Homo sapiens: one gene and its partner. The protein of the gene in region 1 binds, or shares a complex with, the protein of each later gene. Each region holds a gene or a part of one and is shown in the gene's direction. Other genes may lie near its edges.

Evidence for each region.
Region 2: the proteins of LARP4B (region 1) and PABPC1 are in contact, whole or in part, in a crystal structure (PDB 3PTH), measured with the Homo sapiens proteins. Residues at the interface, in NP_055970.1 of Homo sapiens: Leu56, Asn57, Pro58, Asn59, Ala60, Glu61, Val62, Trp63; in NP_001425211.1 of Homo sapiens: Gln560, Gly563, Glu564, Phe567, Gly579, Lys580, Thr582, Gly583, Met584, Leu585, Leu586, Glu587, Ile588, Lys606, Glu609, Ala610, Val613, Leu614, His617.

What each region holds. Positions count from the first base shown.
Region 1 is NC_000010.11:920,234-931,723, reverse strand, and holds the start of LARP4B (la-related protein 4B), read left to right. Parts: upstream 1-18; 5' UTR 19-296; intron 297-3,059; exon of another isoform or gene 3,060-11,490. UniProt on the Homo sapiens protein: Stimulates mRNA translation.
Region 2 is NC_000008.11:100,717,023-100,729,378, reverse strand, and holds the start of PABPC1 (polyadenylate-binding protein 1), read left to right. Parts: upstream 1-7,290; 5' UTR 7,291-7,795; coding exon 7,796-7,988; intron 7,989-11,098; coding exon 11,099-11,292; intron 11,293-11,490; coding exon 11,491-11,606; intron 11,607-12,356. UniProt on the Homo sapiens protein: Binds the poly(A) tail of mRNA, including that of its own transcript, and regulates processes of mRNA metabolism such as pre-mRNA splicing and mRNA stability.

The sequences.
Region 1 (11,490 bases):
GCAGGGCCCCGGAAGTGGGAGCTGTGTGTTCTCATGCGAACGGGAAGGAGCGTTGGGGATCTGGAGTCCCGGGGTTGAGACATTTTCGGGCCCGAAAGGGGAAGAATCCGCCGCCGCCGCCGCCGCCAGCTCGCGCCCGCCCTCTCCCCTACCTCCGGCCCGGCCCGGCCCGGCCGCGCCGCCTCTCCCTGCCGTCTCTCTCCTCGCCGTCCCCGCGTGTGGCGCGGCCGCCGGGCCCCGGGGTTGAGGCGAGGAGCCCGCGGGCGGCCGGTCGGGCGGGGCGGCGGCGCTGACAGGTGAGGCACCCTGGGCCGCGGCGGGCCGTCCCTCCCGGCCCAGCTCGGACCCGCGCCGCGCCGCCTGTCACTGCGCCGCCATCTTCCCGGAGGACGCGGCCGCGGCGGGCAGGGCCGGGCCTGGGCCGGGGCCGGGGCCGGGGCAGGGGAAGGCCGGGGCCGGGTTGAGGAGGACCGGGGCTAGGGCACGGGAAGGGCCAGGGCTGAGGAGGACCGGGGTCAGGGCCAGGAAAAAGCCGGGGCTGAGGAGGACCGGGGCCGGGGCAGGGGAAAACTGGGGCTGAGGATGGCCGAGGCCGGGGCAGGGGAAGGCCGGGGCCGGGGCTTAGGAGGACCCGTTGAGGCGAGGCGGGAGTCGACGGAGCTGGGTGCCCGGAAGACCGGGCCGGGGTCAGGGTCGGGAGGCCGGGGTTGGGCGAAGGCCGGCGAGGACGGGGGTCGGGCAGGGCCTGGGCGGGGCCGGGGTCGCGGGCCGCGAGCGCCCCCAGGCCGGGCGGGCGCCGGCACCCGCAGTGCGGCGCCAGCCTTGCCACTCGCTCCTCGGTCCCGCCGGAGCCCGGATAGGCGGCCGTGCGGGTGCGGGGCGGGACGGGTCATCAGGGCATCGCATTCCTTTAGAACCAGGAAGTTGGGATCCTGTTGCTCGGTGTGTGTTTGGAACGCTCCTGTTTTCCTGTTGATAGACTTGAGCAGAGGTGGATCTGAAGGAGTTAAAAAAATAAAGTCAGATGTGAAGATTGCCTGTGTTGGTCTTGGGGCTGGGATACATGGGCGGCAGAGAAGCCATCGGAAAGCTGCTGCACCTGCCTCTCAGGGTGCGCTTGGGAACGTGAAGAGTCTTTCCGTTTCAGTGCCGTTGTGCGTCGAAACTTCATGCGAATGTAATTTTGCTTTTCCCCTTATTTTTACGTAAAACGTTCTTAAAACTTGGCTGAGATGAAACTTGAGAAACCTAGCTGTAGAAAACTACCTCCTATCTGGCTTTCGTTTGAGATTCTCTAAGTGGATGCCCAATAACTTGTCTTAATAGTAAATTGGAAGTTTGAAGTTTTGGATAACTGAGAAAACAGGAAGGTTTTCCTTGACAGGGCAGTGGAGTTTGTAAGTATAAACAGTATGCGTGAGGCCTTTTTCTAGAGATGAGAGCAACTCCAAGGTGAACATTGAAGGGGACAGACAAGTTATTTTCCCTTTCGAAAGTTTTTTTCTCTTAGTTTCAGTTGTTTGAATATTTAAATGCACTTGAAATAGGTGCTGAGTTGTAGTTTGTGAAGACCACAGTGGGGAAGAGTGGTGTCCTCTTTTTTCTTGGTGGTCAGGTGGTGTGTGCAGTGTGCAATTTCCATACTTCCCCAACCTGCCTGGCGCCCCTCATTACAGTCAGGGTAATTTACAGAAGTTGAAATCGTTGTGGCTTTTCAGTTTTTTCTCCTTGTATTTAATATGCTGAAAGGCAGTTTTGTAATCAAACCATATAAGAAATAGCTTAATTGAGGTTTGCTAAGTGAAATGCGTTCCGAAAGGCATCAGATTAACAAGCTTATTATTTAATCATAAATTTAATTTGTGTACTTATCTTTGAAACTTGCATTGGTTAGAAATAAATTTTATCCGGTATTTTGAAAAGTTAATGTGAGTTGAGTTGACTTATTTATATGAAACAAAGGCATGGCTTATTCATTAGAAGTTACCCTCGTGTTGCCTACATTTTCTCAATTGTAACAGGGGGATGATGATAATCTCATTTTCTTAGGACTGTTGTAACACAAACATGGAAATGTTGTCTGGTTTTGCTATTTTCACTATTACTGATTTTTTTCTTCCCCCCCCGAGTTGGAGTCTTGTTCTGTCACCCAGGATGGAGTGCAGTGACACGATCTCAACTCACTACAACCTCCACCTCCTAGGTCTTCAAGTTATTCTCCTGCCTCAGCCCCCCGAGTAGCTGGGATTTACAGGCACATGCCACCACACCTGGCTAATTTTTGTATTTTTAGTAGAGACGGGGTTTCAGCATGTTGCCCAGGCTGGTCTCGAACTCCTGGCCTCAAGTGATCCACCTGCCTTGGCCTCTCAAAGTGTTGGGATTACAGGAGTGAGCCACTGCGCCCAGCTTACTGAATTTTTAAAATATTCTACCTTGTAGCTGTCAATCTATTAGCAGAAAGTTTTGTTTTTGTTTTTGTTTTTTTGTTTTGTTTTTTTTGGCTTGTTTACACATGTATCTGGGCAGAGAAAACAGCTTCTGAGCACAGAATGCATATTTGGAGAAAGCAGTTCCACTCTTTTTGAGTAGGAACCAGACAGAAAAAAAGATAACATGGGTACTATTCTGTAGAAGAGTAGCTGAAATTAAGTGGCAGCAAATTCAGGGAGAAATGTAATTTGGTTTAATGTTCGGGAAGATTGCCATTTTTAAAAGTGAGATTTAAAGAATTTATTGAATTTAATGCAATTTCCATAAGTAAGCACAAGTTTTGACAAGTATATATTTAAGGTGTTTTTATGAAGCAGTCTTCACATTATCTTAAAATGTAGTTCTAAAATACGTGCAGGCTGGGTGAGGTGGCTCATTCCTGTAATCCCAGCACTTTGGGAGGCCTAGGTGAGTTTAGGAGCCCAGGAGTTCACCAGCCTGGGCAACATAGAGAGACCTCATCTCTACCAAAAAATCAAAAAATTAGCCAGGCATGGTGGCTCACACCTGTAGTCCAGCTGTTGGAGAAGCTGAAGTGGGAAGATCGCTTGAGCTTGGGAGGTTGAGGCTGCAGTGAGCCATGATCCTGCCACTGCACTCCATCCTGGACAACAGTGAGACCTTGTCTCCCCCCACCCCCAAAACATGCAAATTGGGACATCAAATTGTTAATGGTGTTTACAATGAACAGTGCCTTCAGGTAGCTGCAGCTACTCTACATAGATTTGCAAGTTTTTGTAGTGATAGGCTATGGTAGATGTTACCAGCCAAGGAGTGGCTGACAAACTCCTTTCACTGTTATTTCATTGTCATGTTAAAATTCATATTTTCCGTCAAAATAGTGATAGCTAGGATTATAATCTAGGTCTTCTAATCTTAGTAACGTGTTGTCTATGTTAGGGCCTCTCAAAGTTGTAAAAAAGCTGTATAGATGTGTTACCATCAATCGATTTCATTTGTTTTTATCCTAGTGTTAAAGGTACAAGTTTTTTTTTTTTTTTCTTTCCTGAGGCGGACTTTCACTCTTGTCGCCCAAGCTGGAGTGCAATGGTGCGTTCTTGGCTCACTGCATCCTCCGCCTCTCGGGTTCAGGTGATTCTCCTGCCTCAGCCTCCCGAGTAGCTGGGATTACAGGTGCCCTCCACCACACCTGGCTAATTTTTTTTTTTTTTGTATTTTTAGTAGAGTTGGGATTTCACCATGTTGGCCAGGCTGGTCTTGAACTCCTGACCGCAGGTGATTCGCCCGCCTCGGCCTCCCAAAGTGCTGGGATTGCAGGCGTGAGCCACGGCGTACCTGGCCAAAGGTACAAGTTTTAAATATGCTTTTATCATGCATACAGTACTCTTATAGATTCTGTCAGATTTAGGGATATTCTTTTCAGATTGATAAATTGCACAAAAATCTTGGAGTATATTCTTGTAATTTCTTCTACAAAATTCTCAAAACAACCTTTTTCCAATGGGGAGAAGACATGAACACTGAAGTCATGTTTTTGGAAAATACCTTGTTAAAAACAGACACTGCTGTAAGGGTTTCCTTGCTTATGCTCTTTTGTAGAACTTTATTGATGTGAAGAGTTCTCCTTTTTCTGTAAAAGCTTATTTTAGAGTACGAAGTAAATGAGGCACTCAGAGAGTTAACCTCATCAGGTCTGAGTTTAGTTCAGTTTAAACTTTTTGCTCTTATGCTGGTTGATATCTTTGTAACTACTCTACTTCTAGAGTTATTTTGATTGGAAAATGAATTCCTTTTTTAGAACATGGAATTGTAAGGTAGAAAACTGCTAGGTTCTCAAAAGAAGGGAGATAAATTCCAACTTGAAAGTTTTTTCCCCTAACGTTCTAATGCTTTGTTTTTCCTGTGTGTAAATGCCTTCCTTAGGAACAAGGAAAATTATTAACTCAGCTGTGTTTCCTTCCCTTCTCTTTCTCACTGCCCCCCCGCCACCCCATACCTTAATACCTTTTGTCCCTTCAATGCCTTTATAAACTCTGTCTTCTCATAGTTTTTCTGGTGAAGCTGTCATGGCTCCTATTTCAACCATAAAGGATTTGCAGTTCAGTGATGCTACTGGTTTTACATCTTCTTTCCCATCAACCCCATTGCCCTGGTTAGGAGACCTAGACCATGGAGTACATTGCAATATTGAAAGTATTTCATGTTTAACACAATTTTTTTTTTTTTTTTTGAGACCGAGTCTCGTTCTGTTGCCCAGGCTGGAGCGCACTGGCACGATCACGGCTCACTGCAACCTCTGCCTCCAGGGTTTAAGCGATTCCCCTGCCTCAGCCTCCTGAGTAGCTGGGACTACATACAGGTGCGTGCCACCACGCCCGGCTAATTTTTGTACTTTAGTACAAATTGGGTTTCACTGTGTTGGCCAGGCTGGTCTTGAACTTCTGACCTCAAGTGACCCATCTGCCTTGGCCTCCCAGAGTGCTGGGATTACAGGCGTGAGCCACTGCGCCCGGCCATGTTTAACACAAATTTGAAAGCGTACTGCTTAGTTTTTTAGGGGGAGTATGATAATCATAGAGATGAGACTTGATCTTTGCTGAAAGTGTTCTTTATGAAGTCTGATGTGCATAAATTTGCCCAATAAAATGCTCTTTTATTTACACAAATCATTTTAGTCGCACTGTAGCCAGAGTGTGGCATAGCCTGATGGCTGGCCTCTTTTCAGAAACTCATCAGGACTGCCCTAGGCCTCGCCCTGTGTGTGCTTCCACTTCTGTGTCTTCCTTCTTGCCCTGCCCCACCTTTTAATCAGGACCACGCCTCCCTCTCCTACCTTGGTGTTGCAAACGTTGTAGCCATTGCTGTTGGTAGATTCTTTGACTGAAATTGAATGTCCACCTCCTTTAAAAAAATTTTTAAAATATTTACTTAGCTCCTTAAACCATCCTTAAAAAGATATTTTAGGAGTCCTCCAGACTGCTTTGCATTAACTTCTGAGATTATGCTTCTCTGTTTCTGTAGCAACTAAGTGTACCTTTGTGTTACTTAGCACATAATTAATGTAAGCTCCTTGTGAGTGAGATTCTCTTTTTATGCTTGTCACCTCTGCCCAGCCCAGGGACTGGTAAACTGTAGATGTTTAGTGAAAGTAATTCAAGTAAAGAGATAAGAATGCTCAAAGACATCTCCCACCTGTGTTCCAGAGAAATTGTTTGCTGATTGTATACTTGCACATTTCTGTAAACAAATAGGAAAATCTTTACTCAAAAAGCATACATTAGAAAGTTTCTTATAGAGTATAAAAGTTATATTTACAAGTTTTTAACTGACTTTTCATAGCTACATTTAGCGCATAAAGTATTTTCAGATAGAGTAATTTAGCCACATGACCTTTAAATTATACTGTTTCTCAGTCTTTAAAAACGTGCCCTCTTTCGGCCAGGCACTTTGATTCACGCCTGTAATCCCAGCACTCTGGGAGGCCGAGGCGGGTGGATCACCTGAGGTTAGGAGTTCGAGACCAGCCTGGCCAACATGGTGAAAACCTGTCTGTACTAAAAATACAAAAATTAGCCAGGCGTGGTGGTGCGTGCTCGTAATCCCAGCTACTTGGGAGGCTGAGGCGGGAGAATTGCTTAAACCCGGGAGGCAGAGGTTGCAGTGATCTGAGATCACACCACTGCACTCCAGCCTGGGCGACAGAGTGAGGCTCTGTCTGAAAAAAAATGAAATAAAATAAAATAAATGCCCCCTTTTAGATAGCCATAGAATTTCTTACCTTTATTTTGCTTTAAAATAAAAACATCATGTTAACCCAAAATGAAACAATTGCAATATTGAAAATGTATCTTTTAAACTTTAGTGGATGTTTTTCCATTTTTTATTTTCTGTTAAGTATTGCTAAAGGGCCTGGCATAAAGGAGGGCCACTGAGATTACGGTAAGAAAAGGGTTCATTTTCTTCCTGTGGCAGGTGTTCTGACCAGTTGAACACTAGGGATGCAAAGATGAAAGGCAACAGGATTTTTCTGTAAGGCCCGTCATCCAGCAGGAATAGGAAAGTGCATTGTTCTATGTAAAGCCATAGAGACTGGCCTCTGGAAGTGGCTGGCTCTCAGCTGCATGCTTCTTTGGATAGTCTGCTACAACAGTCACATATATTATGGTGTATCCTGCCCTGCACTCTCCTTGTCTCCCCTTCTTGCTGTACTTTTTTCATAGTATTTATGACACTATAACATACCATATAATTTACTTACTAATTTATGTATGGCCCGTCTTCTCATACTTGAATGTAAACTCTTATGAGATCAAGATTTATATTTTGCTCCTCAGTATGAACCTAAGCCTTAGAACAATATCTGGTAGGTAGCATGCGCTAAATAGTTGATGAGTAGATCCCAGTATGGTGAACAAGAGGGATAGATTGCCATCTCTTGGAGTTTGGTGTCCATTGAGACAGGTGGACAATCACATAATCCAATAAGAAAGTGCAGTGCACTGACATCCGGCCTGGATGGGAGGGATCAGAAGGCTTCCCTGAGGTTGTGATGGTGGCACCGAGGTTGGAGGGATGGTGGTGGAGTGAGAGGTCAGCAGAGAGAATTACCTGTGTAGTGCCCCAAGTGGGAAAGGTGCAGAGTGCTTTGAAGGAACTAGTGTGAACAAGGCTGAAGGAAGAGAACGCGGCTGGGAGGTAGGTGGAGAGTTTTATTTTACAGAGCTTGGGAGGTCCCATATAGGTTGATTATTTTGCCCTTTATCCTAAGACCAGTGGGAAGCAGTTGGAGGATTTTATGTCATAGAATTGTCTTTTTTAAATGATTCTGCTTTGCAGAGTCGTGTGGAAGCAGGGAGTGGTCACATGTGGGTGTTACTGGGCGGCAAGGTAGGGAATCTCTTTCTTCTTGTGTACACCTCTCTTCATAGTTGAAAAGGCCAAGCCCCAGTCTAAATGAGACCAGCCAGCTTCCTTAAAATCCCTTTAATTTGTATTACATATAATCGTGTATGTTTAAAAAATATTTTATTTTTTTGAGACAGTTTGTGTCACCCAGGCTGGAGTCCAGTGGCATGCTCACAGCTCTCTGCAGCCTCGACCTGGGCTTGAGCGATCTTGCCACCTTAGCCTCCCGAGTAGCTGGGACCCATGGGTGCATGCCACCACACCTGGCTAATTAAAAAAAAAATTTTTTTTTGTAGAGGTGGCGGGTCTCACTATGTTGCCCAGTCTGGTCTCGAATTCCTGGGTTCAAGCAGTCCCAGAGTGTTGGGATTACAGATGTGAGCCATTGCACCTGGCCTAAAAATGCTTTAAAATTTGTTTATAAAATATGTCTTAAATTTGCTAATATTTGCCAGTTGTTTAAAGTATATTTGTTATTTCAGATAATTTCAAACATGCCTTTTTTAGGAGTGTCTCTGAAAAATGAGAACATTTTGTTTTCACATTTCAGAGAGCTTTGTTTTTATTGTCAGTGCTCAAAATACAGAGATGAAAACCTAGTGATCAATTTGGTATAGATGTACAAATTGCTTCAGTTATTGTTATCTGTTAACATGTTGAACATTCTCTTTTTAAAAATATCAGGTCCTTTAAAATTTTCTTTAAAGGTGGCTTCATGCTTTTCTGAGCATTCTTTTTATCTTTGTTGATTACATATTTGTATTTCATTGTTGAGATTATCGTCTGTGTAATTTTTGCCTTATCAGTCAGAGAATACCAGTAACCTTTAGGAGGCATGTACAGATTTTTTTTTTTTTTTTTACTGGGTCCATAAAGGGGGAAAGTTTGGTCAGGTTGGGGAGCAGTCACACTTCTTCCTGAGAGGTAGTAAATACCAGGCTCTCCATCTGGAGGAGGGGTCAGTAAATCACGTTTGCAAAGGAAAAGATGCGGTAATTGGTAGGATTCAGACCTGTGCCGGGAAACCCCAATGGATTTCTAGTTCATTGCTTTAACCATTCAGTCCTGACTTTAAAAGTAGACTTGAAGTCCCTATGGGAAGCTACCTTCTAAAAATCTAGACATTTGAAAGGATGAAAGCATTGTCTCTTGTGCTTTTAGGAGGTTAAAAACATTTAAACCACGGATAGAACACTGGCATTTAGTGTTTCTTGAGTACTGTAAATACAGTAGCTTACTGTGAAAGTCTTTTTGGGTGGACTTCTGTCTGGCATGATTTGTTTTTTTTTTTGAGGTGGAGTCTCACCTGTTTCCCAGGCTGGAGTGCAGTGGCACAGTCTCCGCTCACTGGAAGTTCTGCCTCCCAGGTTCACGCCATTCTCCTGCCTCAGCCTCCCAAGTAACTGGGACTGCAGGCGTGTGCCACCACGCCCAGCTGATTTCTTTGTATTTTTAGTAGAGACGGGGTTTCACCATGTTAGCCAGGATGGACTCAATCTCCTGACCTCAAGCAATCTGCCTGCCTTGGCCTCCCAAAGTGTTGGGATTACAGGCGTGAGCCACTGTGCCCGGCCTGCGTAGCATGATTTTAAGTTCTATGTTCCATATTCCTCTGTGGTTAATATCCATACCTCCAGTGATACTTGTTATTTATTTATTTATTTATTTATTTATTTATTTATTTATTTAACAGACGGGGTCTCGTTCTGTTGCCCAGGCTGCAGGAGTGGAGTGTAGTGGTGTGGCCACTGCTCACTGCAGCCTCCAATTTCTGAGCTCCAGTGATCCTCCTGGCTATTTAAATAATAATTTTTTGAGACATGAGGTCTTGCCATGTCACCCAGGCTGGCCTCAGTCTCCTGGCCTCAAGTGATCCTCCAGCCTCAGCCTCCCAGGTTGCTGGGAATATGAGTGTGAGCCCCTGTGCCTTGCTCCATTGACAGTTGTTACCAGGCTAAATTGCTAGTTCAGGTTGCCTTTCAGTGGGTCACTTGGAGCAGGGGTCCCTAACTCCCAGGTTGTCCGACCCGTACCCATCATGGCCTGGTAGGAACTGCGCTGCACAGCAGGAGGTGAGCAGCAGGGTGAGTGAGCATTACTGCCTGAGCTCCACCTCCTCTCAGATGAGCAGTTGCGCTAGATTCTCATAAGAGCTCAAATCCTACTGTGCACTGCACATGCAAGGGATCTAGGTCGCATGCTCCTTATGAGAATCTAGTGCCTGATGATCTGAGGTGGAACAGTTTCATCCTGAAAGCATCCTCCTCACCACCCCCCACCCCCTGACCCCTCCGCTCTGTCTGTGGAAAAATTGTCTTGCATGAAACCTGTCAGTCCCTGGTGCCAAAAAAGATTGGTTACCGCTGACTTGGAGTACTGACCATTGTGAAAATGAGTAACTGATGAATCAGCAATAGTTGCTTCTTCACGCTGTCAGTGAAGACCAAAGAATGAATATGGGAAGCAGTATTACCAGTGTTGCTGCGTGTGCACGTGGCCTTCAGTTTTTCCCTGCTCTTCCCATTTCTTTGTACACACCGATGAATTTAATCTCTTCTGCTGAAATCATTATTCTTTAGGGCTCAGTACAGGAGAGTTAAACCTAAGCATGAAAGGACTGGAAATGGGATGTAGAATTGCCAAATAAACTGTAGAAGCATTGAGGCACTTAAAAATCTCCATGACCTGGAGAAATTCCAGTGAAGAGTAAACTTTTGCAGTGTGCCTTAGGATTCCGAGTGACCACAAGTTTTATTATCTTTCAGGCAAGGCCACACAGATTCTTGGCATACTATTTCCTGTAAGTTCAGAATTTTGGAAGTGTGTTGGTCATTGTGGTAGTCCTCCCCCTCCCCGCGTCCCCCTGCCAACCTTACAGGAAAGAAAGAAGTGGTAGTTTTATTCTGTTATTGAGAATAGGTTTTTCATGAAATCACATGAAGTTACAGCTCAACATAAATAACTGTAGACTAGATGTTTTCCCAAAATCGTTATATGGCCACAAATTGTGTTAGATAATTATATGAGCAAGGCAAATAAATGCTGGATCATTAACTTCCAGTTTTCTTTCTTTCTTTTTCTTTTTTTTTTTGAGATGGAGTTTCACTCTTGTTGCCCAGGCTGGAGTGCAATGGTGCGATCTCGGCTCACTGCAACCTCCACCTCCTGGGTTCAAGCGATTCTCCTGCCCCAGCCTCCTGAGTAGCTGGGATTACAGGCATGCACCACCACGCCTGGCTAGTTTTGTATTTTTAGTAGAGACAGGGTTTCTCCATGTTGGTCAGGCTGCTCTCGAACTCCCCACCTCAGGTGATCCGCCTGCCTTGGCCTCCCAAAGTGCTGGGATTACAGGTGTGAGCCACCATGCCTGACCCTTAACTTCCAGTTTTCAATTTGATGTTGGGAAGTGTGGTTAGGTAAATTTATTGTAAAGCATATATTTACGAAATGTTTAATAATAATAATAGTGAACATAACATTTAATCAGCCTTAACCCAGTTGCATGGAGTGTTTTCTTTTTATCAGTTCCATCGTTATCAGTCTGGAATTAAAAGACTGAAGGAACCTTTAATTCTTTTTAATTCCTTTTTTTTGAGACAGAGTCTCACTTTGTCCCCCAGGCTGAAGTGCAGTGGCTGTATCTTGGCTCACTGCAATCATCACCTCCTGGGTTCAAGTGATTCTCGTGCTTCAACCTCCAGAGTAGCCAGGACTACAGGCACGTCACCATGCCCAGCTTATTTTTATAGTTTTAGTAGAGACAGGGTTTCTCCATATTGGCCAGGCTGGTCTGCAACTCCTGGCCTCAAGTGATCTGCCTGCCTTGGCCTCCCAAAGTGCTGGGATTACAGGCCTGAGCCACTGTGTCTGGCCTGATTAATTCTTAATTCATAAAATGTTAGGTGTGAATTAAATAGTACTTTTGAAGTAAGATGTTTATATTCTAAGACTGTGAGTTTTGTTCTACGTTATTTTGTCAACTGAGATTTGGTAACTAGTTTGTGAAAATAATTGTCAGAAAAACAGTGTAATATTGCAGTTGCAGTCTTAGGATTTTAGATCTCTGAAGACTCAGAAACTGAAGCCCATGAGGTAAAATTAATTAGAGATACAGCTGGCTAGTTGGTGACA
Region 2 (12,356 bases), on another chromosome or scaffold:
ACTGGAATTACCTTTTGGAAGAAACCTGAAAGCCAAAAGTTTAGATCCTGTGTTCCCTTTTCATTCGAGCCCTAATCTATTGTTTACCATACTTGCCTCCTCTCCCGCCTGCCTTTATGCCCTCCTATTCACCCTGTTTCAGCCAAGGGATCATCATCCCTTCAACACATGCTGCTTATGCCCACCTCCACCACATTCCTGATGTTATTTCTTCCACCTTACAATGCCCTTTCCTTTCCTTATTCCAAGTACTGTTCTGCCCCCTGTCATTCCCACATCAAAGAGATCCTTTGAAATTTGCACTGCCTGTGTTTGAATCAAAGTTGTTCTACTACTTTAGCCTCAGTTTCCTCACTGGCAATACTGTAGTTTCCTGCCTGATAGGATTCCGTGAGGAGGCAATAAAATTACCCAGGTTCAGCCAGGAGCAGTGGCTCACGCCTGTAATCCCAGCACTTTGGGAGGCTGAGGCGGGTGGATTACCTGAGGTCACGAGTTTGAGACCGACCTGGTCAATATGGTGAAACCCCATCTCTACTAAAAATACAAAAAATATAGCTGGGCATGGTGGTGGCCACCTGTAATACCAGCTACTCAGGAGGCTAAGGCAGGAGAATCGCATGAACCCAGGAGGCAGAGGTTGCAGTGAGCTGAGATTGTGCCATTGCACTCCAGCCTGGGCAACTAGAGTGAGACTCCGTCTCAAAAAAAAAAAAAAAAGAAAGAAAAAAGAAAATTATCCAGGTTCAATAAATATCCATGCTCCATTAATATTAGCTCTTAATAAAATTAAAATTTCTTCTATTTACCTGAAAAGTATTTTTGTCCTTCTTTATATCTTTTTGTTGTTTGTTTAGAGACAGGGTCTCCCTCTGTCACCCAGGCTGGAGTGTAGTGGTACAATCACAGCTCACCGCAGCCTCAACCTCCCTGGCTCAAGTGATCCTCTTGCCTCAGCCTCCCAGTAGTGGGGACCACAAATGCACACCACCGCACCTGGCTTTGTTTTGTTTTGTTTTGTTTTAACTTTGTAGAGATGAGGTCTCACTGTGCTACCCAGGCTGGTCTTAAGCTCCTGGCCTCAAGCAATTGTGCCACCTCGGCCTCCCAAAGTGCTGGGTTCACAGGTGTGAGCCAGCCACCATGCCCGTGCCTGGCCAAATACTTTATATCTTTTTTTTTTTTTTGAGATGGAGTCTAGCTTCGTCACCCAGGCTGGAGCACAGCGGCGTGATCTCAGCTCACTGCCTTTGTCGCCTAGGCTGGAGCACAGTGGCGTGATCTCAGCTCACTGCAACCTCCGCCTCCCAGGTTTAAGCAATTCTCCTGCCTCAGCCTCCCAAGTAGCTGGGATTACAGGTATGCACCACCATGCCCAATTAAGTTTTGTATTTTTAGTAGAGATGGGGTTTTACCATGCTGGCCAGGCTGGTCTCAAACTCCTGACCTCAAGTGATCTGCCCGCCTCGGCCTCCCAAAGTGCTGGAATTACAGGCATGAGTGACCGTGCCCAGCCCCAAATACTTTACATCTTAACCTATGTTCTTAAAGTATTTGTGCCTTAAGAACAGTGGTCCTAGAATATGACCCATTGCAAGAATATTCTCACTGTGACCCCTCTTGGGAGTTTTTTTGTTATGCATCTAATATTTAATATTGTCTCAATGGGGTCATTGCATTTTTCTGTTCTCTAAATTAGTTTAGGACAGTAACAGTTGTATCTCTTTCATGTGTCTGCATGTGTATGTCTCTTTTATTTTTATTTTTGCCCCTCCCCAGCCTCCTGTGTATGTCTCTGCTTAATACTTCTGTCACACATTTGAACTTGGTATCTACCAAATCAATTGATGTGTGGTAATAGAGAGAGATAAGAGGTATTCGATAAGTGGTAGCGCTGTACATTATGCTATTAAAATTTACATATAGGCTAGGTGTGGTGGTTCACGCCTGTAATCCCAGCACTTTTGAGGGCCGAGGCTAGTGGATCACCTGAGGTCAGGAGTTCAAGACCAGCCTGGCCAACATGGAGAAACCCCGTCTCTACTAAAAATACAAAAATGAGCCAGGCTTGGTGGTATGTGCCTGTAATCCCAGCTATTTGGGAGGGTGAAGCAGGAGAATCACCTGAACCCAGGAGGCGGAGGTTGCAGTGAGCAGAGATCGTGCCACTGCACTTCAGCCTGGGGGATGGGGCAAGACTGTCTCAAAAAAAAAAAAAAAGAAGTTTACACATAATATTTTACTCAAGTCTTACAAGAATCCTATTAGGAAGGTAGTAGTATCCCTGTTTTGTTTTGTTTTTTTTTTTGTTTTTGTTTTTGTTTTGAGACAGAGTCTTGCTCTGTCCCAGGCTGAAGCACAGTGGTGCAATCTCAGCTCACTGCAACCTCCACCTTCCGGGTTCAAGCGATTTTCATGCCTCAGCCTTCTGAGTAGCTGGGATTACAGGCGCACGCCACCACGCTTGGCTAATTTTTTGTATTTTTAGTAGAGACAGGGTTTCACCATGTTGGCCAGGCTGGTCTCGAACTCCTGACCTTGTGATCTGCCGATCTTGGCCTCCCAAAGTGCTGGAATTACAGGCGTGAGCCACCGTGCCTGGTCGTAGTATCCCTGTTATATTGAACAATCATTATAACAACTACACTGGTTTAACATAGATGGCTATGCCATTAGAAAAGCACCTTGTAACAAACCTTAGTATTTTGAGATTTCTCTTATTGTCTTCTACAACAAAATCACTAACTACATTTTTTTCCCATTATTGTTTCTGTGTTTCTGAGTCTGTGTTTATGACCCTTGACCTTATGACCCTTGATCCTGCCACAGCATGTTAGCTCTAAACTCCAGGAGCTCTTTCAGGGAGCGTTTCCTGACACGCTGGCTGGGTTCTCATTTCTAGTGCTGAGCTTGGAAGTAGCGGACTTTTGGTACCCAAAGTCAGGCAAGCAGGGACAAGCAAGGACTTCTGGACAACAGGAGGTTCTGGACCTCCAAAGCTGAGGACGCTGTATGGCAGTGATCCTACTAATGTTCTGAGATCCCCTCTTTGATGTTAGCAGTCTGATTGCTCGCCATTTTCTCAGAACTAATGTCAGCTTACAACATCTGACACACAATCTAGAAACAGGACCCCATTTCAAACTCATATAAATTCCTTTCTTCATTCTTGGTTGGTATGAGAAAAATATGCAATGCGTATGGAAGAAAACATAAACTCTAAGTGAGTCTCATTATAGGAATTCCTCTGATCATGGGCATGACAATTTGCAAATCTGAGTAGGTGTTATGTTCCTCACCAACCTGGCAAACCAATTAAGTGGGAAGCTCATCTTCTGAAACATTGCATAGTTTTGATTTTATCACAGACATCATATAATATTTTTTCTATTTCAAGGATCTACAGAAAGTATACCCCTTCAATTGAGAGGGATCTGTTCTCAACGAATACACTTATTATCCATTTCAAATAAATCTCTCTATATTACCTAAAGATCTTAAAAGGCCAGGTTATCTTACATACATTACACAAGATACTATAAATTATCCTGGATATATTCTGAATGTATCCTGGATATAACCTGAAAATTACTTATAAATTGCTAGTGAAGTTCAAGTGAATAAGCTCTCTGGAGAACTTTACAGTTTACTCATTAAATAAAAACAGGTTAATTGAATGACTTTAATGTCATTAGATATTCTTAGGCACCCACAGTGAGATGCTGCACATATAAAGACATTATTCTGTCCCACAGCTTGCAATCTAAAATTAGATAAACACAGGCAAGCCAGATAAACATAGACAGCACATTTTTTAAGACAAAAAAAAATGATAGGAGAGAAAAATGAGAGTAGTGAATCAAAAAGGCAAAAGGAATCAACAAATATTTCATCTTCTGCCTTTTATTCGTAGCCTTAATTACCTCTATCACAAGCAATCAGACTGCTAACATCAAAAAGGGGTCTCAGAACATTAGTGGGATTACCACCATACAGCGTCCTCAGCTTTGGAGGTCCAGAAACTCCTGTTGTCCAGGAGTCCTTGCTTGTCCCTGCTTGCCTGATTTGGGGTACTAAAAGTCCACTACTTCCAGCACTAGAAATGAGAGCCCAACCAGCATGTCAGGAAGCGCTCCCCGAAACAGCTTGTGGAGCTGAGAGGTAACATGCTGCAGCAGGCCAAGCAGTCTGGAGGTGAACACGGCCCTAGGTGCCCATGTGACCATCAGGTTGAGACCTCCCAACTAACCCTCATCCTATATGGTCAGTCTACAAGGCCTAGCTGGCCCTCTCCCTGAAGTTAGGTTTAAAAAGAAAAAATACACCCTCAGTGTGCCAGGCTTCACGGTAGATGGTTGGGATGCAGATAAACATGACATAAGCCTTCTTTTGGCGCTTACAACTTATTTTGGGAGATCGCTCATAAACACACTATTTTGATATAACGTAGTAAATGTAGTGGCAGGGTTGGCGGGGGGCAGGGGAAAAACCAAAGGAAGGGTGCCCAATCCTACCTGGTGGTCAGGGAATGGTAAGTTACTGGCGGAGAGGAGGAAGAATCTGAGAGGCAGAACCAGGAAAGTGTAGCCCAGACGCCAAGAGAGTGTGTGACAAAAGAGAGGGAGGAAAACAGTGTCAAACTCTGCAGATGTCCAGTAAAATGGACCTGAAGAAAGTCCATTGGATTTGTCAAATAGAACAGGGATCATTGGCAACTGTTGATGGGGCAATTTGAGTGCAGCTGGAAGTCATACGGTAGTGTTGAGGAACTAAGGAGAGAGAAAGCAGAAATGAAAAGCTTGGCTATGAAAAAAAAGTGAATGAGAGAGGAATATGTCATTAAGAGAAGATTGGTTTGTTTTCTTTTTGATCTGAATTGACCAGTTTCTGATCTGAGCGAAAGCAGCTGGCTGGAAATAAAAAGAGGTGATTGATGGATCAAGGGAACAGGTTCTTGGTTTCAGTTCCAGATCCCACTCCTGTTTCCTCCTGGGCTCTGACTCTCTCTCCTATTCTATTAAATAGCAGCTCCTTGTCCTCAGGTATGGACTTTGCTTCTACTTTCCCTTGCACATACTCAACTGTACCTCCATAAAATATGACAATGACATCTACTAAGTGCAAGAGCCACAGCTGCATAGACGTCCTGATGACTGGCTCCCTTCCCAAACTATGTATTCACCTACAAAGCACTAATATACTTTTCTAGTGATGAGAATGCTTCCATTTACCATCCAGGGCATCACTGCCTGTCAAGCTGCCCTGGAAGCCTAACAACTGTTTATTTTTTATTTATTTGAGTCTCGTTCTGTCACCAGGCTGGAGTGCAGTGACGCAATCCTGGCTCACTGCAACCTCCGCCTCCCGGGTTCAAGCGATTCTCCTGCCTCAGGCTCCCGAGTAGCTGGGACTATAGGCGCGCGCCACCACGCCCAGCTAATTTTTGTATTTTTAGTAGAGACGGGGTTTCACCATGTTGGCCAGGATGGTCTCGATCTCTTGACCTCGTGATCTGCCCCCCTTGGCTTCTCAAAGTGCTGGGATTACAGGCGTGAGCCACCGCGCCTGGCTACTTTTTGTATTTTTAGTAGAGACGGGGTTTCACCATGTTGGCCAGGCTGGTCTCGAACTCCTGACCTCAAGTGATCAGCGTGCGTCAGCCTCCCAAAGTGCTGGAATTACAGGAGTGAGCCACCGCGCCCGGTCACATTTTATCCTCTTTTTAATAGGAGCAAAATAGTATTTATGTGGGATTCCACTGGTTTAAATTCTAATTAAATGAGACAAGATATAAAGTACTTAATTCCACACCTAGCAATACAGTTGACATCCATTAAAGTTTATTGAATTAAGGAATAAATTGGGCAATCATTTAACTTCTTTGAGACTGTTCCTGTAACAGTAAAGTAAAATTATTACTACTTGCTCCACCTCCCACACCAGATTGCTCTCAGGAACAAATGATAGTATGTTTACGCGAGTGCTTTAAAAACTGTAAAAGCACTTTACTACTTTCGAGTGGAATTTGTATGTTGATTTAATGTCATTCCTAGAGCCGGTTTTTATTACTATCAATTCGTTAAATTTAGCATTCCTATTAAAACCCACTACTAATGTGCAGAATTGTTTTAGTTATTTATAAGGACGTTGTTTTAGACTATTCCTAATTTTGTCTGGTTGCAGGGCTGTGGTGCCATATAGTAGTGATTGTGACAAACCCGTACTTTCAGGAAAAACATTCACTTTTCTCCACTCCTGGTTTCTATCGCCAAGAAATGTCTGGCAGAAGCAGCACAAATCAATGATTCCAGCCTAGCACCTTAAGGTAAGAAGTGACCAAAGACCCCCAACACAGCTATCCCAAATTAAAGCCACTTTGACCAACGACAACGTCCAGTGAAGACACGGAGGAGGGTCGGGCTGGAAAAGAAGAGGACGAGGAACCCGAGGGGCCCTCCCCTCTCTCTCCCTGCCCCCCAACCCCGCGCCGGGAGCTCCAGCGGTGCCGGGGTCCAGCGCGCAGGACGGTTGGGGGGTCCCGGAGCGGGCGGCCAGGACCCGCGCAGCCAGTTGGTGTCAGCGAGCGCCGCGGCCGTTGGGGACTCCAGCTCCCAGCAGGCACCGCTTCTGCGGCCGACGCGCGTGGCGGCGGTGCCGGCTGGGACTCGTAGTGCGGTCCGGGTAGGAGAGAGCAGGGGGCCACGCTGGCTCCATCTACGCACGTTTCGGAAACCGGGCCCGGAGGGGACCACGCCCGCTCACCCGTGCCCGGCGTCCCCCGGAGCTGGGGCTAGAGGAGCCGGGCCGGCCGCAGCGGGAAGAGGCCACAGGCGGCCGCGCACGTGGGGGGTGGTTAGCGCGGAGGAACCCGGAAGCCCTTTGCACCGCCCACCGCCGCGGTGACGGGTTAACGCTCCTCCTGGTGGAGGCAGGGGCGGGCGGGGCGGAAGGCGGGGACGCCTCAGCCAACACCCCCGAGGACCGCCCGCGAGCCGTCCTCCCCACCCCCACGGACGCGACGCAGCGCGGGCTCCGCTTCCCCGGCCGCGGCGCCTGCGCAAAAGCCCCGCCCCTTCGCCCGAGCCCCACCCCCACACCGCAGCCTCCACCGCCGCCACCTCTCCCTTCCTCTCTGCTCTTTCCTCCTGTTTTCTCTTCCCTCCTCCCCCTGGCCTCCGCGTCTCCTCCTACTCCGGCGCTGACGCTCGCGTAGGGGCCCTGGCGTCAGACGCGCGGGGGCGGGGCGAGTGCGGCGCGGGGTATAAGTAGAGGGTGCAGGAGGCGGTGCTTCCCCTTCTCCCCGGCGGTTAGTGCTGAGAGTGCGGAGTGTGTGCTCCGGGCTCGGAACACACATTTATTATTAAAAAATCCAAAAAAAATCTAAAAAAATCTTTTAAAAAACCCCAAAAAAATTTACAAAAAATCCGCGTCTCCCCCGCCGGAGACTTTTATTTTTTTTCTTCCTCTTTTATAAAATAACCCGGTGAAGCAGCCGAGACCGACCCGCCCGCCCGCGGCCCCGCAGCAGCTCCAAGAAGGAACCAAGAGACCGAGGCCTTCCCGCTGCCCGGACCCGACACCGCCACCCTCGCTCCCCGCCGGCAGCCGGCAGCCAGCGGCAGTGGATCGACCCCGTTCTGCGGCCGTTGAGTAGTTTTCAATTCCGGTTGATTTTTGTCCCTCTGCGCTTGCTCCCCGCTCCCCTCCCCCCGGCTCCGGCCCCCAGCCCCGGCACTCGCTCTCCTCCTCTCACGGAAAGGTCGCGGCCTGTGGCCCTGCGGGCAGCCGTGCCGAGATGAACCCCAGTGCCCCCAGCTACCCCATGGCCTCGCTCTACGTGGGGGACCTCCACCCCGACGTGACCGAGGCGATGCTCTACGAGAAGTTCAGCCCGGCCGGGCCCATCCTCTCCATCCGGGTCTGCAGGGACATGATCACCCGCCGCTCCTTGGGCTACGCGTATGTGAACTTCCAGCAGCCGGCGGACGGTGAGCGCCGGGCTCCGCGGTCGGCCGGGCGGGCGGGCGGCCATGAGGCTCGGGCGGCGGCGGCGGGCGGGGTAGGCCGGCGGGCCCGGGGAGGGGGGCGGGAGGGCATGTCACCCCGCGACGGCCGGCGGGAAGGCGCCGGGGTCCCTGGAGCCGCGTTTCCCGAGCCGGCGGGGACCCGCGCTGCCGGCAGCCACACGCCCGGCTACTTCCTCCTTTGCGACCATTTTCTCGGCCTCAGACGCTCTCAAACTTTAGGGTGATGACGCGCCGGGAGGGTGGGTGAGATTCGGTTCCTCCGCGGCGCTCCCGCCAGTGGCCCCGGGATTCTGGGGCGTTGAACGCTGAGCTCCTTCCGTGGGTAAGAGGTGGAGGCGCTCCCACCACCCGGAGCTCCTGCCGGCGCCCCAGCCTGGGGAGGAAGTGCAGTTCTGTGCTCGAAAAATACCACGTGTTGAACCCTGTAACCTCGCAGGCCCGAGGCCTGCTTCTGCTCCTGCTCCTGGCCCAGTCGCCTGGGGGAGCCACCAGGCCTTAGGATAAAGTTCCTGTGGCGATGTGTGGTGTGGTGGTGGTCCTCAGGCTTGTGAGTCCACTTCCCAGAACTCATCAGTGACTGATGGATCTAGGAATGGAATTTACCGGAGACATGCATTTGGGGTTTCCCCTAGATCAAGCATTTCTCTAACATTAAAAGGGCAGAGTGGGAGGAGGGGATGTGGCAGCCGACCACTTTGAAGGCCAGTTTTCTCAGGCAACTTAGACCATTTTTAGTCAAATTTTATCTTAGATTCACAGTACTGGTGGTTTTCGAGTATATTATGTTACCTTCTGAAATAGTTCCTGTCGTTTTGAGGGGCTTTTCTTTATAAAATAGTCAACTTTGGCTATAAAATGTTACTTTAGTGTAATTCCAACTGGACCAGTCTTATCTGTAGCATGCAAGAAGTTCAAGTTTCTCTTTTATTTTTAAAAGTGGCCCATGATACCTGTAAATCTTGGGAAATGACTGAGTACAAAATAACGGAGATTAAATTGAGCTTGAAATTTATGGGGGAAATGCAGCTAACTTTGTGCTTTTATTTTGAAGCTAAACAGTTAACAGAAACACAATTTTGTAAACAGATAATATCTGTGGTCTGTTGAGTTGCTAGGATTTGTCTTTAGATCAATTGGCTTTGAGAAGTCAGCTTAATTCCATTTTACGGCCCAATTTTGCCTTTTTCCCCCCCTACAGGCTGGCCACTTGAATACATGTCAAATAATCGAAATATGAAGAATTCATTTTTATTAGAAAAGGCCTTAAGGGTGGAATTTAAGCTCCTATTAACATTCATTCAGTAGAACTTAGGTTACTGATCAGCTCTTCACTGTGTAAAGTTGATACTGATTTTGGAAGCAGAATATTGAGTGACACAGAGCCAGAAGTTGTAAAACTGCACTGCAGGTTTCCTGCCCTTTTGCTCTGTAAGCAGTAACTCCAAATGTCACTTCATAACAGTTCTTGTCAACCTTAGGCAGGATGTATCAATGCATGTCAGATGGGGGTAGATAACTTTGGGGCAGGTTATCACAACCTAAGAGTTGGTGGAGAAAACATGGGAATGAATTCTAGAGACCACAAAATGAAAACTTGAAAGTGTTACTCTTTCTCAGCTTAACGTTTTTAAATCCAAAAAACAATTTTTACATTTCTTGGGATTCGAAGAGTTGAACTTCAGGTTGCCGTGGTTACAGTGTACAGTATATATTATCAGTCTGTACCAGTAGACCAGTACCCTAACTACTGAAAAGAATATGGCAGTTTTCCATTTGTCTAGTTTCTGTATGTACAATTTACTATCCAATTAATTACTTAAGTGGATTTCTTGTTCTTTTTTAAAAACTTATTGCTACATTGATAGGCAGAATAGCTTCTGAAAGTGACCAGTTTTCAATTTCATAGGAAGAGGTGACTCATTGAAAAATAGCTCAAGCAAAGTCAGCTAAAAAAAAAAAAAAACTAGGGAAGCTGAGTAGGTGTGGTCAATTGATAATGAGCTAACAGCTGATTATCACTATATTCTAGAAACTGGAACTTTCATTTATAAAAAAAGAGGTGGCCGGAAAATTCATCCTGTCAATAACTTTTAAATTTACATTGGCATGGAATTTGTAGGAATTGTTTCAGGGCTTAAAAGGGACCGTTTTCCCTCTCTTCGGGGACTAGTCTTTTTATTTAAGGATGTGTTATTTCATTTAGAGCCTTTAATGGTACAGGTATACATAATTCAATCCTTTATAGATCCTGAAATTAATTGTAGATTTTGAAATTTTCTAGCAGTATTCAGAAATAACTAAATCAGTTGTTAAGAAAATCAGCGATCTAAAGTGAAATTGATTGTATGTGTCAAGAGAGCGTTAATGGTGATTTCTGAATATTGCAGACCTGGTGTTTTTAAAATTCTGTGATTATGAAACCAAATATGTCTAACTTCACATTAGCTTTTGAAAGCATGATTCAAATCTTGGTCTAGCCTTTCATTTTCTTAAATGGAAGTTGTGCCATGAATCACTGAAACCCTCCCTCCCCCCAATAATTAAGAAACTTTCATTTTTTAGGAAATGGACTAGTTTTCATATAATATTGTTAGTTATTAGCAATGAAATGACCAATTTTAGCAAGTAGTTGGGAAGAAGTTAAAATATTTAAATCTATAAACTACTTCCAGCTTGTAGATAAATCTGTTGCGTAATGTCTTTTATACTGCTTATTAAACAGATTGTATGTGAAGGAATTTGGATTTTGATAACTAGGAAAAAAAGTGCTTTAGATTTAATGGCAATTAAGGCGAGAGATTGCGTCAAGAATTTATTAATTATTAGCAATATGGAATTCTTTTATATGTGAGAAATTTCGGGGGCTTCTGGTATTTGTCTTTGCTTTATACAACTTAGGTCCCACACTAGTGTGTGATACTTGAAAGGTCTAGCCATCTTGAAGCTTAAAGAGGAAGCGTTCAACTGTGAGACCATGTGTCCTCCCACTCCAGTCACCATAGTTTATATAATCTTAAGTAGCCAGCAAAAATTTTGAAGTAATATTGACTCTGAAAATGTCCTTCCTGCAGCGGAGCGTGCTTTGGACACCATGAATTTTGATGTTATAAAGGGCAAGCCAGTACGCATCATGTGGTCTCAGCGTGATCCATCACTTCGCAAAAGTGGAGTAGGCAACATATTCATTAAAAATCTGGACAAATCCATTGATAATAAAGCACTGTATGATACATTTTCTGCTTTTGGTAACATCCTTTCATGTAAGGTAAGCCAAAAATGTCCGATACACATGTTTACATTGTTGAGCTACATTTAGTTTAGTGCTTGAAATAGGAACTGTGCAGTAATGGATATCTTTATTTCACAAATATCCAGGTTAGATGGCTAACAGATTGTCTCTCAACACTGAACAAATGTTAAATCAATAGCAAATAAAGAAAAATGGGTATATGTTTTTCCCTAGGTGGTTTGTGATGAAAATGGTTCCAAGGGCTATGGATTTGTACACTTTGAGACGCAGGAAGCAGCTGAAAGAGCTATTGAAAAAATGAATGGAATGCTCCTAAATGATCGCAAAGTGTAAGTTATAAATATCTAGCTAATCATATTTTGAATCTTATTTTTAATAATTCCAAATCCATTCATTTTAAGTTAATATTTGTCAGGGAGAAGTTAGATGCACATAAGATAAAAGAATAAAAACATTTTAAAGATGAATAACAAAAATTCATGTAGTTGTACTGGAGTGAAAATTAATAAGCTAATCTTGATTTTTACAATTGAATTTTCTACACAGTAAGTGTAACATACAAATAACAGGTTTAATATAATTAACATTCATGCCAAAAGGAAAACAGAAGATAAGTAAACAGAAAAATGTAGCTTTTTCAAAATGAGTGCATTAGTGAAAAATCAGGAATTCAGACAAACCTAATATTCATAATTCTTGAGGTACTGGTTAAATTAACCCATTTTATAGGTGAGGAAACTCAAAGTAATTTGCTTTTATGTACTGTAAAATGAGAGACATACATTACTCACAAGTCCGGGCGCGGTGGCTCATGCCTGTAAATCCCAGCACTTTGGGAGGCCGAGGTGGGCGGATCACCTGAGGTTGGGAGTTTGAGACCAGCCTGACCAACATGGAGAAACCGTCTCTACTAAAAATACAAAATTAGCTGGGCATGGTGGCGCATGCCTGTAATCCTAGCTACTCGGGAGGCTGAGGCAGGAGAATCACTTAAACCCGGGAGGCGGAGGTTGCAGTGAACCGAGATTTCGCCATTGTACTCCAGTCTGGGCGACAAGATTGAAACTGTCTTTAAAAAA